Regions from separate parts of the Homo sapiens genome. Here regions 1 and 3 are each reported to be linked to region 2. Evidence: microRNA targets listed by miRTarBase, many of them from high-throughput screens and not tested one by one. Region 2 holds a microRNA gene; each other region holds the end of a gene's coding sequence.
What was found. Region 2 holds the annotated microRNA hsa-miR-32-5p (UAUUGCACAUUACUAAGUUGCA, at 2,807-2,828, opposite strand). A microRNA usually pairs through its seed, bases 2 to 8, with sites in the 3' UTR of a target mRNA and lowers its output. Matches are read on the target gene's strand: a 7mer-m8 pairs with bases 2 to 8, a 7mer-A1 pairs with bases 2 to 7 and ends in A, and an 8mer does both.

Region 1 (4,068 bases), not on the chromosome of region 2:
GGCCTGTCCAAAAAGCTGCTGCTGGGCAGCCCCAGCTCGCTGAGCCCCTTCTCTAAGCGCATCAAGCTCGAGAAGGAGTTCGACCTGCCCCCGGCCGCGATGCCCAACACGGAGAACGTGTACTCGCAGTGGCTCGCCGGCTACGCGGCCTCCAGGCAGCTCAAAGATCCCTTCCTTAGCTTCGGAGACTCCAGACAATCGCCTTTTGCCTCCTCGTCGGAGCACTCCTCGGAGAACGGGAGTTTGCGCTTCTCCACACCGCCCGGGGAGCTGGACGGAGGGATCTCGGGGCGCAGCGGCACGGGAAGTGGAGGGAGCACGCCCCATATTAGTGGTCCGGGCCCGGGCAGGCCCAGCTCAAAAGAGGGCAGACGCAGCGACACTTGTGAGTACTGTGGGAAAGTCTTCAAGAACTGTAGCAATCTCACTGTCCACAGGAGAAGCCACACGGGCGAAAGGCCTTATAAATGCGAGCTGTGCAACTATGCCTGTGCCCAGAGTAGCAAGCTCACCAGGCACATGAAAACGCATGGCCAGGTGGGGAAGGACGTTTACAAATGTGAAATTTGTAAGATGCCTTTTAGCGTGTACAGTACCCTGGAGAAACACATGAAAAAATGGCACAGTGATCGAGTGTTGAATAATGATATAAAAACTGAATAGAGGTATATTAATACCCCTCCCTCACTCCCACCTGACACCCCCTTTTTCACCACTCCCCTTCCCCATCGCCCTCCAGCCCCACTCCCTGTAGGATTTTTTTCTAGTCCCATGTGATTTAAACAAACAAACAAACAAACAGAAGTAACGAAGCTAAGAATATGAGAGTGCTTGTCACCAGCACACCTGTTTTTTTTCTTTTTCTTTTTCTTTTTTCTTTTTCCTTTTTTTTTTTTTTCCTTTATGTTCTCACCGTTTGAATGCATGATCTGTATGGGGCAATACTATTGCATTTTACGCAAACTTTGAGCCTTTCTCTTGTGCAATAATTTACATGTTGTGTATGTTTTTTTTTAAACTTAGACAGCATGTATGGTATGTTATGGCTATTTTAAATTGTCCCTAATTCGTTGCTGAGCAAACATGTTGCTGTTTCCAGTTCCGTTCTGAGAGAAAAAGAGAGAGAGAGAGAAAAAGACCATGCTGCATACATTCTGTAATACATATCATGTACAGTTTTATTTTATAACGTGAGGAGGAAAAACAGTCTTTGGATTAACCCTCTATAGACAGAATAGATAGCACTGAAAAAAAATCTCTATGAGCTAAATGTCTGTCTCTAAAGGGTTAAATGTATCAATTGGAAAGGAAGAAAAAAGGCCTTGAATTGACAAATTAACAGAAAAACAGAACAAGTTTATTCTATCATTTGGTTTTAAAATATGAGTGCCTTGGATCTATTAAAACCACATCGATGGTTCTTTCTACTTGTTATAAACTTGTAGCTTAATTCAGCATTGGGTGAGGTAATAAACCTTAGGAACTAGCATATAATTCTATATTGTATTTCTCACAACAATGGCTACCTAAAAAGATGACCCATTATGTCCTAGTTAATCATCATTTTTCCTTTAGTTTAATTTTATAAACAAAACTGATTATACCAGTATAAAAGCTACTTTGCTCCTGGTGAGAGCTTAAAAGAAATGGGCTGTTTTGCCCAAAGTTTTATTTTTTTTAAACAATGATTAAATTGAATGTGTAATGTGCAAAAGCCCTGGAACGCAATTAAATACACTAGTAAGGAGTTCATTTTATGAAGATATTTGCTTTAATAATGTCTTTTTAAAAATACTGGCACCAAAAGAAATAGATCCAGATCTACTTGGTTGTCAAGTGGACAATCAAATGATAAACTTTAAGACCTTGTATACCATATTGAAAGGAAGAGGCTGACAATAAGGTTTGACAGAGGGGAACAGAAGAAAATAATATGATTTATTAGCACAACGTGGTACTATTTGCCATTTAAAACTAGAACAGGTATATAAGCTAATATTGATACAATGATGATTAACTATGAATTCTTAAGACTTGCATTTAAATGTGACATTCTTAAAAAAAGAAGAGAAAGAATTTTAAGAGTAGCAGTATATATGTCTGTGCTCCCTAAAAGTTGTACTTCATTTCTTTTCCATACACTGTGTGCTATTTGTGTTAACATGGAAGAGGATTCATTGTTTTTATTTTTATTTTTTTAATTTTTTCTTTTTTATTAAGCTAGCATCTGCCCCAGTTGGTGTTCAAATAGCACTTGACTCTGCCTGTGATATCTGTATCTTTTCTCTAATCAGAGATACAGAGGTTGAGTATAAAATAAACCTGCTCAGATAGGACAATTAAGTGCACTGTACAATTTTCCCAGTTTACAGGTCTATACTTAAGGGAAAAGTTGCAAGAATGCTGAAAAAAAATTGAACACAATCTCATTGAGGAGCATTTTTTAAAAACTAAAAAAAAAAAAACTTTGCCAGCCATTTACTTGACTATTGAGCTTACTTACTTGGACGCAACATTGCAAGCGCTGTGAATGGAAACAGAATACACTTAACATAGAAATGAATGATTGCTTTCGCTTCTACAGTGCAAGGATTTTTTTGTACAAAACTTTTTTAAATATAAATGTTAAGAAAAATTTTTTTTAAAAAACACTTCATTATGTTTAGGGGGGAACTGCATTTTAGGGTTCCATTGTCTTGGTGGTGTTACAAGACTTGTTATCCATTTAAAAATGGTAGTGGAAATTCTATGCCTTGGATACACACCGCTCTTCAGGTTGTAAAAAAAAAAAACATACATTGGGGAAAGGTTTAAGATTATATAGTACTTAAATATAGGAAAATGCACACTCATGTTGATTCCTATGCTAAAATACATTTATGGTCTTTTTTCTGTATTTCTAGAATGGTATTTGAATTAAATGTTCATCTAGTGTTAGGCACTATAGTATTTATATTGAAGCTTGTATTTTTAACTGTTGCTTGTTCTCTTAAAAGGTATCAATGTACCTTTTTTGGTAGTGGAAAAAAAAAAGACAGGCTGCCACAGTATATTTTTTTAATTTGGCAGGATAATATAGTGCAAATTATTTGTATGCTTCAAAAAAAAAAAAAAGAGAGAAACAAAAAAGTGTGACATTACAGATGAGAAGCCATATAATGGCGGTTTGGGGGAGCCTGCTAGAATGTCACATGGATGGCTGTCATAGGGGTTGTACATATCCTTTTTTGTTCCTTTTTCCTGCTGCCATACTGTATGCAGTACTGCAAGCTAATAACGTTGGTTTGTTATGTAGTGTGCTTTTTGTCCCTTTCCTTCTATCACCCTACATTCCAGCATCTTACCTTCATATGCAGTAAAAGAAAGAAAGAAAAAAAAAGGAAAAAAAAAAAAAAACCAATGTTTTGCAGTTTTTTTCATTGCCAAAAACTAAATGGTGCTTTATATTTAGATTGGAAAGAATTTCATATGCAAAGCATATTAAAGAGAAAGCCCGCTTTAGTCAATACTTTTTTGTAAATGGCAATGCAGAATATTTTGTTATTGGCCTTTTCTATTCCTGTAATGAAAGCTGTTTGTCGTAACTTGAAATTTTATCTTTTACTATGGGAGTCACTATTTATTATTGCTTATGTGCCCTGTTCAAAACAGAGGCACTTAATTTGATCTTTTATTTTTCTTTGTTTTTATTTTTTTTTTTATTTAGATGACCAAAGGTCATTACAACCTGGCTTTTTATTGTATTTGTTTCTGGTCTTTGTTAAGTTCTATTGGAAAAACCACTGTCTGTGTTTTTTTGGCAGTTGTCTGCATTAACCTGTTCATACACCCATTTTGTCCCTTTATTGAAAAAATAAAAAAAATTAAAGTACACATTGTAAGCTTCTTGTGTCCTCATTTGACACACTCTGTAAATTACTTGCAAGAAAATAACAGGTTTTAAGAGAAGGCCAGTCAGTCTTTTTCAGGATTATTTCTATGGGCATTCTGATGCGTGTATTATACCCTAAAGGAACATAAAGTACTTACTATATTAAAATAGACATATCTCAAACCCTGGACATAGTT
Region 2 (4,068 bases):
TTCCTCCACCTTTATGTCTCAAAAAATATCTGCCTTTTCTTGGTTTTCTGGGACCTTTTTCTTCAGTGATTCTTCAAAGATTATTGACAGTTGTTCTTTAATTTTAGTCCAAGCTCTCCTAGCACTCAATAGTTGATGAGAATCAAACTCTGGAGGTTCTTTTCCTCCCTCCTTTTGGTAGCTCAGATGGACGTGATTTAGCTCAATGGAAGAAGAGACTGACACACCAGCCACTGAGCTAGAGGCACGGTTTTCTAACAAGGCCTATTCCCTATTCATAGACCTCCCATTACTACACAGTCTTAGAGATGTTCTCCTGTCCCATACTATATATAGACTATTATAGAGCAGGATTCCTGTCCATTGGAAGGTAGGCCATCGTGCATCCAATCCAGCTATGCCCCACCTAAGCATACCTCTCTGTGGAATAAAAGTTCCAAGAGTTAGTTAGGATCAGCTTTTTCTCAGCTAGGATTTTCCCCTAATAAAGCCTACTGTATATTTATACCGTATGGCACTAAAGGTGTGAATATCCATGCCTCCTTTACACAACTATATTTAATAATAACTCCTCTGCACCAGAAGCTTGAATTGACTTCAAATGATTGTTTACAATGTTAACTCTTCCTAACCAGCTCTTGATCTTCATCCTTTATAAATCCTAGGATGAAACTTACTTTTTCACACGTTTCCTGATACTTAACTTTAGCTCTCAACCCTCTCTTTTCTGACAAACCAGATTGTGCTTGCTACTTTTCTAAACTGAGTAAGAAAAAAATAACAAGACAATTCAGGATTTAATCAGATGACCTGCTTTTAATGGAATGATATTTGAAGCAAGGAGTGGGATGGGGAGAATAACAAACCAGTCCAGAAGCTCTATAAACTCAGTGTACACAGGGCCTTAGACCACAGCTGAGTAAGAATTACCTGTCTAAGGAAGAAGATAAATAATGAAGAAAAGGAGGAGTGAAGAGTCCAAAGTGAAATTCTGCCTCCTCCACATTTCCTTACACTGGTTCCACCCTCTTTTCTAAAGGACTGTCATTCCCCTTCCCAGTATTCTAGCCTCACTGCAATATGGTATGTCTCAAGTAGAAAGTGAGCTGGTGGGAGAGACCAGTCAGCTTTTAGAGACACAGTATATACAATAACCAGTGGGAAAAGTACTCGCCAGCTCCCTTGACTGCTCTCTACATATTTATGGGGTACATAATAATGTTTCAATACATATAATGTATAGTAATCAGATAGGGGTAATTGGCATATCCATCATCTTGATCATTTATCATTTTGGTTTTTTTTTTTTTTTTTGAGATAGAGTCTCACTGTCGCCCAGGCTGCAGTACAGTGGCATGACCACAGCTCACTGCAACCTCCACCACCTGGGTTCAAGAGATTCTCCCACCTGAGCCTCCCGAGTAGCTAGGACTACAGGTGCATGCCACCAAGCCCAGCTAATTTTTGTATTTTTAGTGGAGATGGGGTTTCTCCATGTTGGCCAGGCTGGTCTTGAACTCCTGACCTCAGGTGATCTGCCCGCCTTGGCCTCCCAAAGTGCTGGGATTTGAGGCGTGAGCCACCGTACCTGGCCTCATTTCTTTTGTTGGGAGCATTCTGTATCTTCCTTCTAGCTACTTGAAATGATATAATTTATTGTTGAACTACAGTCATTCTACAGTGCTGTAGAACATTAGAACTTATGCCTTCTAAGTAATTTTTGTATCCTTTAACAAATCTCTCTCTACCCACCCCTTCCCAGCCCCAACCTCCCTTGAGAGGTCACATCTTCCCTTTCTTGATTAATCTGCCCTGGAAACCCAGCTCCACAGGGTGTCATATAGCAACCTGGCTGACATTAGATTTCCAGCATGAGGGGAACGGCCGAGCTGCTGAAGGGCACAGGGGATGAGCTGCTTACGTGGAATTCTTCCATTCTCACCCTCCAAAACAGTGGTGAAACACAGAAACATACAATGACAGCATCACAATAGATCATCTGGAGGCTATGGTAGTAGTAAATATTAATTCAATATTTTCATACAGTAATACATGGTTTTGTGTCCTTGACAATGCCTAGTGATTGTGGATGCTTACTCTAATGCTAACTAAAAAAATAACAAGGGGTTGTTTCAATTACATAGGCAAATAGTAAACGTGTATTTCAAAACTAGTTCCATTATTAGCCCACTAAAATGAATTTAGCAGTTTTCGAAGCATCACAATGAGAAAGTAAAAGACACATTTTTAAGGTAATTTACCTTGGAAACTTAAGTTTATGAGATGAATCTTTCATCAGGTAGGTTAAGCATACCTTTACTGTCTTGATTATTATTTAAGAACTCCAGTTAATTTAATTTCCCCAAATATGCATAAGAGATTTCTGCTTCTCTATTCCAGTGTTGGGAGAGATTTCTTCAAATAAATGAAAATACATTTTCTTACAGCTTTACATTCTTCCTTATACATTTAAATATTGTTTATACTCTTAAATCAATGAGAATTTGTAATAAATATTTCATTTGCTCAAAGTAAAAAATGGAAACACTGATTTACTAAATGATCATTGCTGACTTTTTTTAATCCAAATACTTTTAATTCTCCAAAATTGGAAGGTACCGATGGGAAGCATGTTCACTTTCCAAATGAGAATCGCATGGCATACACACTGTCTTATCTAATTCATCAGGACACCCACCCACTGGCACTGAAAAGCTGTAATCCCAGCAAGCAAGAGCCATACCCGTGTGCATGCACTCATGTGAAAATATCACACACACTAAATTGCATTGAGGCCGTGACAACATGCAACTTAGTAATGTGCAATATCTCCACCAGAGCAAGCAGAATGGGAGCATCAGGGAAGAAGGGTGTGATGTATACATTCAGGAGACAACATGCTGCTGAAGAGAGGAAAATGGTCTGGGGATAAAGGATGCATGCCACTGACTCAAAACTTCATGAAATGAAAACCCAATTGCAAATGTATTCAACTGAGAAGAATACTTATTCAGAATCAAAATAATGAGTAAGGTTCAAAACTTCAATGAGATAGTGATCATAAAGAAACCACATACTTCAGAAGGCAAAGCTTCACGAACAGACACTATCACTGTCTGGTCATGCAATTAACCCCCAATTTCAATTCCATTTTTGACTTATTCACAGATCATATAAATGAATGTAATGATTTCCACTTAGCTGCAACATAGATGATGATTAATGACTGATGCTTATAAAAGTTGGTATCACTGATATTTGTAGGCTAAACTGCACTTTGAGGACATTACAATATTTTCATAGTCATTCATAAATTATAAATAACCACTTATTTTTCCCTCAAAATCTTTTTCCATGAAGAAACATATTGCCTCTTCAACACAAACCTTCAGGATGAAAAATCCAACAGGAGCTCTTAGAAAGAGAACTCACTACCATCTTCTCCACAGGAGAAAGCTCTTCAGAGGAATCTCTGTAAAATCTGTACATTTTAAGTCTTGAATTTGAGCCAGTAAAGAAACAGCCCTAGGAACTTAAACTGCAAAAAAAACACCTTGAATTATAGCCTTAAAATTACATAACTTGATATAGCTTTGGTTAGAAAAATGTCTCAGGCCATAACCCATTCTTTAGTCTGTACCATATTTATCAGACTCATAAAAATCTATCAATTCTGAGAACCATTAGATTATAGTTCTGGTACCAAAGGTTGTTAAAATTTTTTCTGTATTTAAAATAAGGTGATAATAAAACAAATGGTTTTTAAATGCCAGTATACTATGGAACCAAGACATAAGCTACTGTTATAATACATAATTAGTGTATGCACTCCCAAGAAGGGAAGTCGAATCTAATTTGTAAAAGACTGATTTCCTCATATCGCTGTAGATGACAGCACTCTTTGTAATCTCAAATTCTCTCCTGAGCCAAAGACCTGAATTTCTAAATGCCACCCTCTTATGTCCACAAATATAAGTCATGATCTTCCCTAACCAGCTCCTCTTGAAAGAAGGCATCATGGTGTAACAGAGTATGTGCTTTCAATCAGCTGAACCTAGGTGTGACTAA
Region 3 (4,068 bases), not on the chromosome of region 2:
GGCCGGGAATTTCGAATGCTCTGCGGGCACATGGCAGGCCTGAGGGTGTGGGGGGGAGGGATTGGGAGAGGGAAAAGCAGAGGGTGATGGTCGTGGCCCAGATGCCCAGCCAGGACTGGCGCTGGGGACCCCAGGGACCCAGACTGCTCAGGTCCTGCAGCCCCCCAGTCACCTGAGCACCCCTCTGCCTGGATGGAGTTAGTTCTGGAACAGCATGTGTGGCTTAAGTGGCTGTTAGCCAGGGCCAGGGGTCGGGGGAAATTCAGGCTCATCATCTAGAGCTCCTTGTGGCACAGGCTGGACAGTGTCAGCAGCAGCAGGGGCTTGTGCCCCCTCCCCCCCACCCCTTAGGCCTCCCTGCTCAATGCAGACCCACCACGGCCAGTCACATAATAAACATATATTAACAGATGTACAATTTGAGAATTCTAATTCAAGAAATACAGCTTCCAGAGGATCCTTTAGGATCTATGTTCTTATTGCACATGGCTCAGCCCGTCTAGGGACATCTACCAAGACCAGATGGTCGGGGCGTGGGGGCAGAGCACCGGGGCCACAGTGGGTAGGCACTCTGGCCACATCAGTTCTTATAATCTCTCTGGGCTGAAGTGGCTGCTTCATTGCAGGGTTGGACCTTGTTTAAAAACCAGATTTGACATTTCCTTACCGAACTTCCTTTCCCAGCAAGAATCCTATTTGTTGGGGGACTTTTAAAAAAAGAGCCGAGAGAAACTCTGGGAGGGTGGTTATCACCTCCTGGCTGGCAGCTTGGGGAAGTAAGGCTTTGGAAGACGGCGGGCGCAATGACACACCCACCGCCACAGGAAAACATGGTCATTCCAGAAGGCCCAGGAGAAACTGTGGGAATAAATAAAACCTCCCTCCTCCCACTGGCGGCAAGTGCTGTTTTAAGCAAAATCCTCATTTCAATGTGAGGGTAAGAAAACTATTCTGGTTCAGGTGTATCCTTTGTCCAAGGTACGAGAGGAGGCCTGGCGGTCACATCAACAGCGAGTGAAGACAGAGGCAGCCACGGGCACTGCCTTTTCTTCAGGAGTCGAGGAGGCTGCCCTGGGGTCCCGGCACCACTGACTGACTCGGAGGAAGAACTTTCTGAAGTCCTTGGTGCATGACTTAGGAAAAACCAGTGGCAATGATGGAGCTGTGCCCTGTGGCACCTATAAGGCAAAGCCCACTGAGGGACTTAGGGGTGGGGAAATGGTTAGGTAGATCCTGGCCCCCTCTGCAGGCCTTCCCTTCTGTGGGCAGGGGGCTGGAGGGCTCCTGGGCACCAGGACAAAGAGCCCACCAGCGCTGCTGAGAGGGGAGAGGTGGTCTCACCCAAGCAGGTCCTTGTGGGGCCTCTACTGTGACTCAATACTGACCTGGCACCTGCCTCCATGGCCTGCTCCTCTCCAGGTTAACCATAATCCTGAGGCCTTCGCGGGTTCACACTATCATGATTACTGCTGCCATCAAAACCAGGCTGGGGTTTCGGGGGGCTGTGAAAAGCTCTGATGCGACTCTCCTTATGCTGTCAGCTACAGCTAATGTCTAGCAAAAACATCACCAGGGTACCTTCCCCAAACAGGCCTCATTTTCTAAAACATGGAAGAAATCAGCTCAACAACTTAACCAAATCCCTGCAGAGTTTAAAAAGTAGACTATATATATATATATCTTCATATATGCCTATTTACATATAAATAGATATATATACATATACACGCATCTATAAATTACATTCTATGGAGAGTTCTCTTTCTTCCTCCTATCTTTGGCCAGGGCCTCTGGCTTCTCCTGAGAGGTGGCTGGTGGTGGCTCCTGTGAGGGAGGAAAGGCAGCTGGGTGCCCCCTCCCCCAGCCCTTCCCACTGATATCTGCTGCGAGTTTTACATTCTACTTTCGTTGCCATGGTTTCTGTATCCTAGGAGAGAGGCGATGCGGAGCCTCCGCCAGCCCTGCGAGGGAGGGAAGCAGCCCCATGGCAGGTTTTCTGTCTGTCCTAAGAGCTTTCTGCATTTACTGGGTGAGAGAGAGGGCAGCTGTGCAGCGTTCGGCCTCCAATTCCATTTTAATTTTGTTTCTTTGTTTGTCTTTCCTCAAATATACAGTCCATCACCTTGGCTCAGTGCATGTCACCAAAAATTCTCCAGGGATTTCATAGTCTGGGGAGGAGAGTGGCAACAGTTAGCTCGGCATTCAGGCGGCACCGGCTCCTCTAGCTTATGCCACACAAGTAGCCCCCCTTGCCACTGCACCGCTGCACCGTGCTGCCCGCTCGACCCCCACCAACCCCACTTGCGGCCTGCCCTCCTGCGGCAGCACAGAGGCAGGCACAAATGGCCTCCAGGCAGAGTCAGCCATGGATCCAGGCCGGGAGGACACAGGCAAAGGAGGGGGTGGGCAGGGCACCCACACAGAGAAGAACCTTCACTGCTTCTGCCCACACTTCTCTGGGCTTGGCTGAAGTGGCCACCTCTGGCAAACGCTGGGAACAGAGCCCAGCGCCCCCATTCGCCGGGCTGCAGAAGGAGGGAGCCTGCTACCAGCAACTCTCATTTCCCCTCCACCCCTCCTGTGCTGAGCGGCTGCGTCTGACCCTGAACTCATGACCTTCTGTTCCCTTCCTCAGACCGCAGGCGAGATGCCTGGGCAAGGCCGGATGCCTGTGGCTTCCAGGCTGCCAGGTGTGACGGCATTCGAGAGAGTGCCTCAGATCCCACCAGAGGGGGGTGGTCAGGGCCCGCGGCCCCTGCCGCCACCAAGACTGCCAGCTCCCACCCACCTCGTGGCTGCCTGTTCATCTTGCTCCATTTCCTCCTAGCTGGAGGGATGGAGAAAGGGGAGGGCTCTTGGCCCACCTATTCCCACATGGTTCTTCCTGGTATCAGGCAGGCAGTGTGCATATGGGGCTCTCTTGGGCCCCACCATATGTGATGGCCTAAATACCAGGGCACGGACAATAGTCTGCTGTGCTGGAGAAAGGGCCGTGCTGACTGATGGCTGGAGTGGACCAAGAAGCCCCGGGTGGCCCTCAGCAACAGTTTCAAGTTCCCACTCTGCCTGGTTCTGGGGTCCCCCACACCCCTGGAGCCAGGGAGCAGAGCGGAGGAGTGGGGAGGACAGCATCGCTAGAGGGCGGAAACCGACCTTGGTTTCCCAGCAGGCCCCACAGCTGCTCGGTCTCTGGAGGCTGGAGGTCAGGCTGGGGACAGGAGTCTTTGCCACAATCACCAGGCTTCCTCCCTTTCTCCCCCTCCCTCCTCTGCTCATGACCAGGGCCAAAGCTGCCAGGAGTTGCAGGGTGGAGGCAGCCCTGGCTCATACTTGGACCTCGGTGGTGTGGCTGGCCCAGGACTATCCATGCAGGGAGGCCTGCACCTCTGACAGTCGGCTGCAGCTGGGGGTGCCCATCTTCTGTGCTCTGTGGTACATATCTGTGTCGCCAAAGTAGCGTGCCCGGTACAGCAAGCCTTCCTCTGCAAAGCAATGGGACAGGGTTAGTGCACACCCAGTACCTCCCGAAGCCTGCAAGGAAGCCTGCGAGGGCTGTGGAGGGCGGAGGAAAGCTGGTACATGCCCGGGGCTTGGGCAGGGCTGGCCTCCCATTAGGAAGACCATGGAGGAGCAGAGACTACAGTCCTTATGTGGGCGAGGGTGACAGAGGCGCCTTTCTCTAGAATGCAGTGAGGCCAGCCAAGGTGAGACCCTGTCATCCTGGTCAGGCCTCCCCAGGGTCCCACAGACAGATCCAGGAGCACAGTCAGGGGGTGGCCAGGGATCCATCCGCTCCAGTCCATCTCTACACACTCACCTCTGGCAGCCAACATGCTGGGCTGATGGCAGTGATTTACGGGAACCTGAGGAAACTACCAGGTGGCCCCTGGCTCCCAGCCCCGGAGAAACACAGGAGTGGAGACCAGCTCTTGTCTGGGAGGTGGCTGGTGCAGGGCAGTGCCAGGGGCTGGGCCCTCAGAGCACAGGGTGAGCAGGGCTCTCTCCTTCCCCTGCTTTCCAGCTTCATCCCAAGCCACCTCCCAAATACAGCCCCCGCCTTCCCCCCAC

Region 1: miRTarBase lists BCL11A as a target of hsa-miR-32-5p. Seed matches in the 3' UTR shown: 8mer at 981-988.
Region 3: the mRNA of DNAJB12 is a reported target of hsa-miR-32-5p. Seed matches in the 3' UTR shown: 8mer at 478-485.

Annotation. Positions count from the first base shown.
Region 1 is chr2:60,456,999-60,461,066 of GRCh38, reverse strand. BCL11A (BCL11 transcription factor A) reads left to right here. Exons shown (of 4, transcript NM_022893.4): 4 at 1-3,873. The coding sequence ends at 663. Among named protein-coding and RNA genes, the nearest start is that of MIR4432HG, 68 kb to the right of the region's middle.
Region 2 is chr9:109,043,466-109,047,533 of GRCh38, forward strand. MIR32 (microRNA 32) reads right to left here and starts at 2,833; the gene lies at 2,764-2,833. The region is part of intron 14 of TMEM245 (transmembrane protein 245); the gene reads right to left.
Region 3 is chr10:72,332,450-72,336,517 of GRCh38, forward strand. DNAJB12 (DnaJ heat shock protein family (Hsp40) member B12) reads right to left here. Exons shown (of 9, transcript NM_017626.7): 8 at 3,331-3,482; 9 at 414-2,168. The coding sequence ends at 3,361. Among named protein-coding and RNA genes, the nearest start is that of DNAJB12, 20 kb to the right of the region's middle. RefSeq lists enhancers at 2,368-2,777, 3,338-3,457.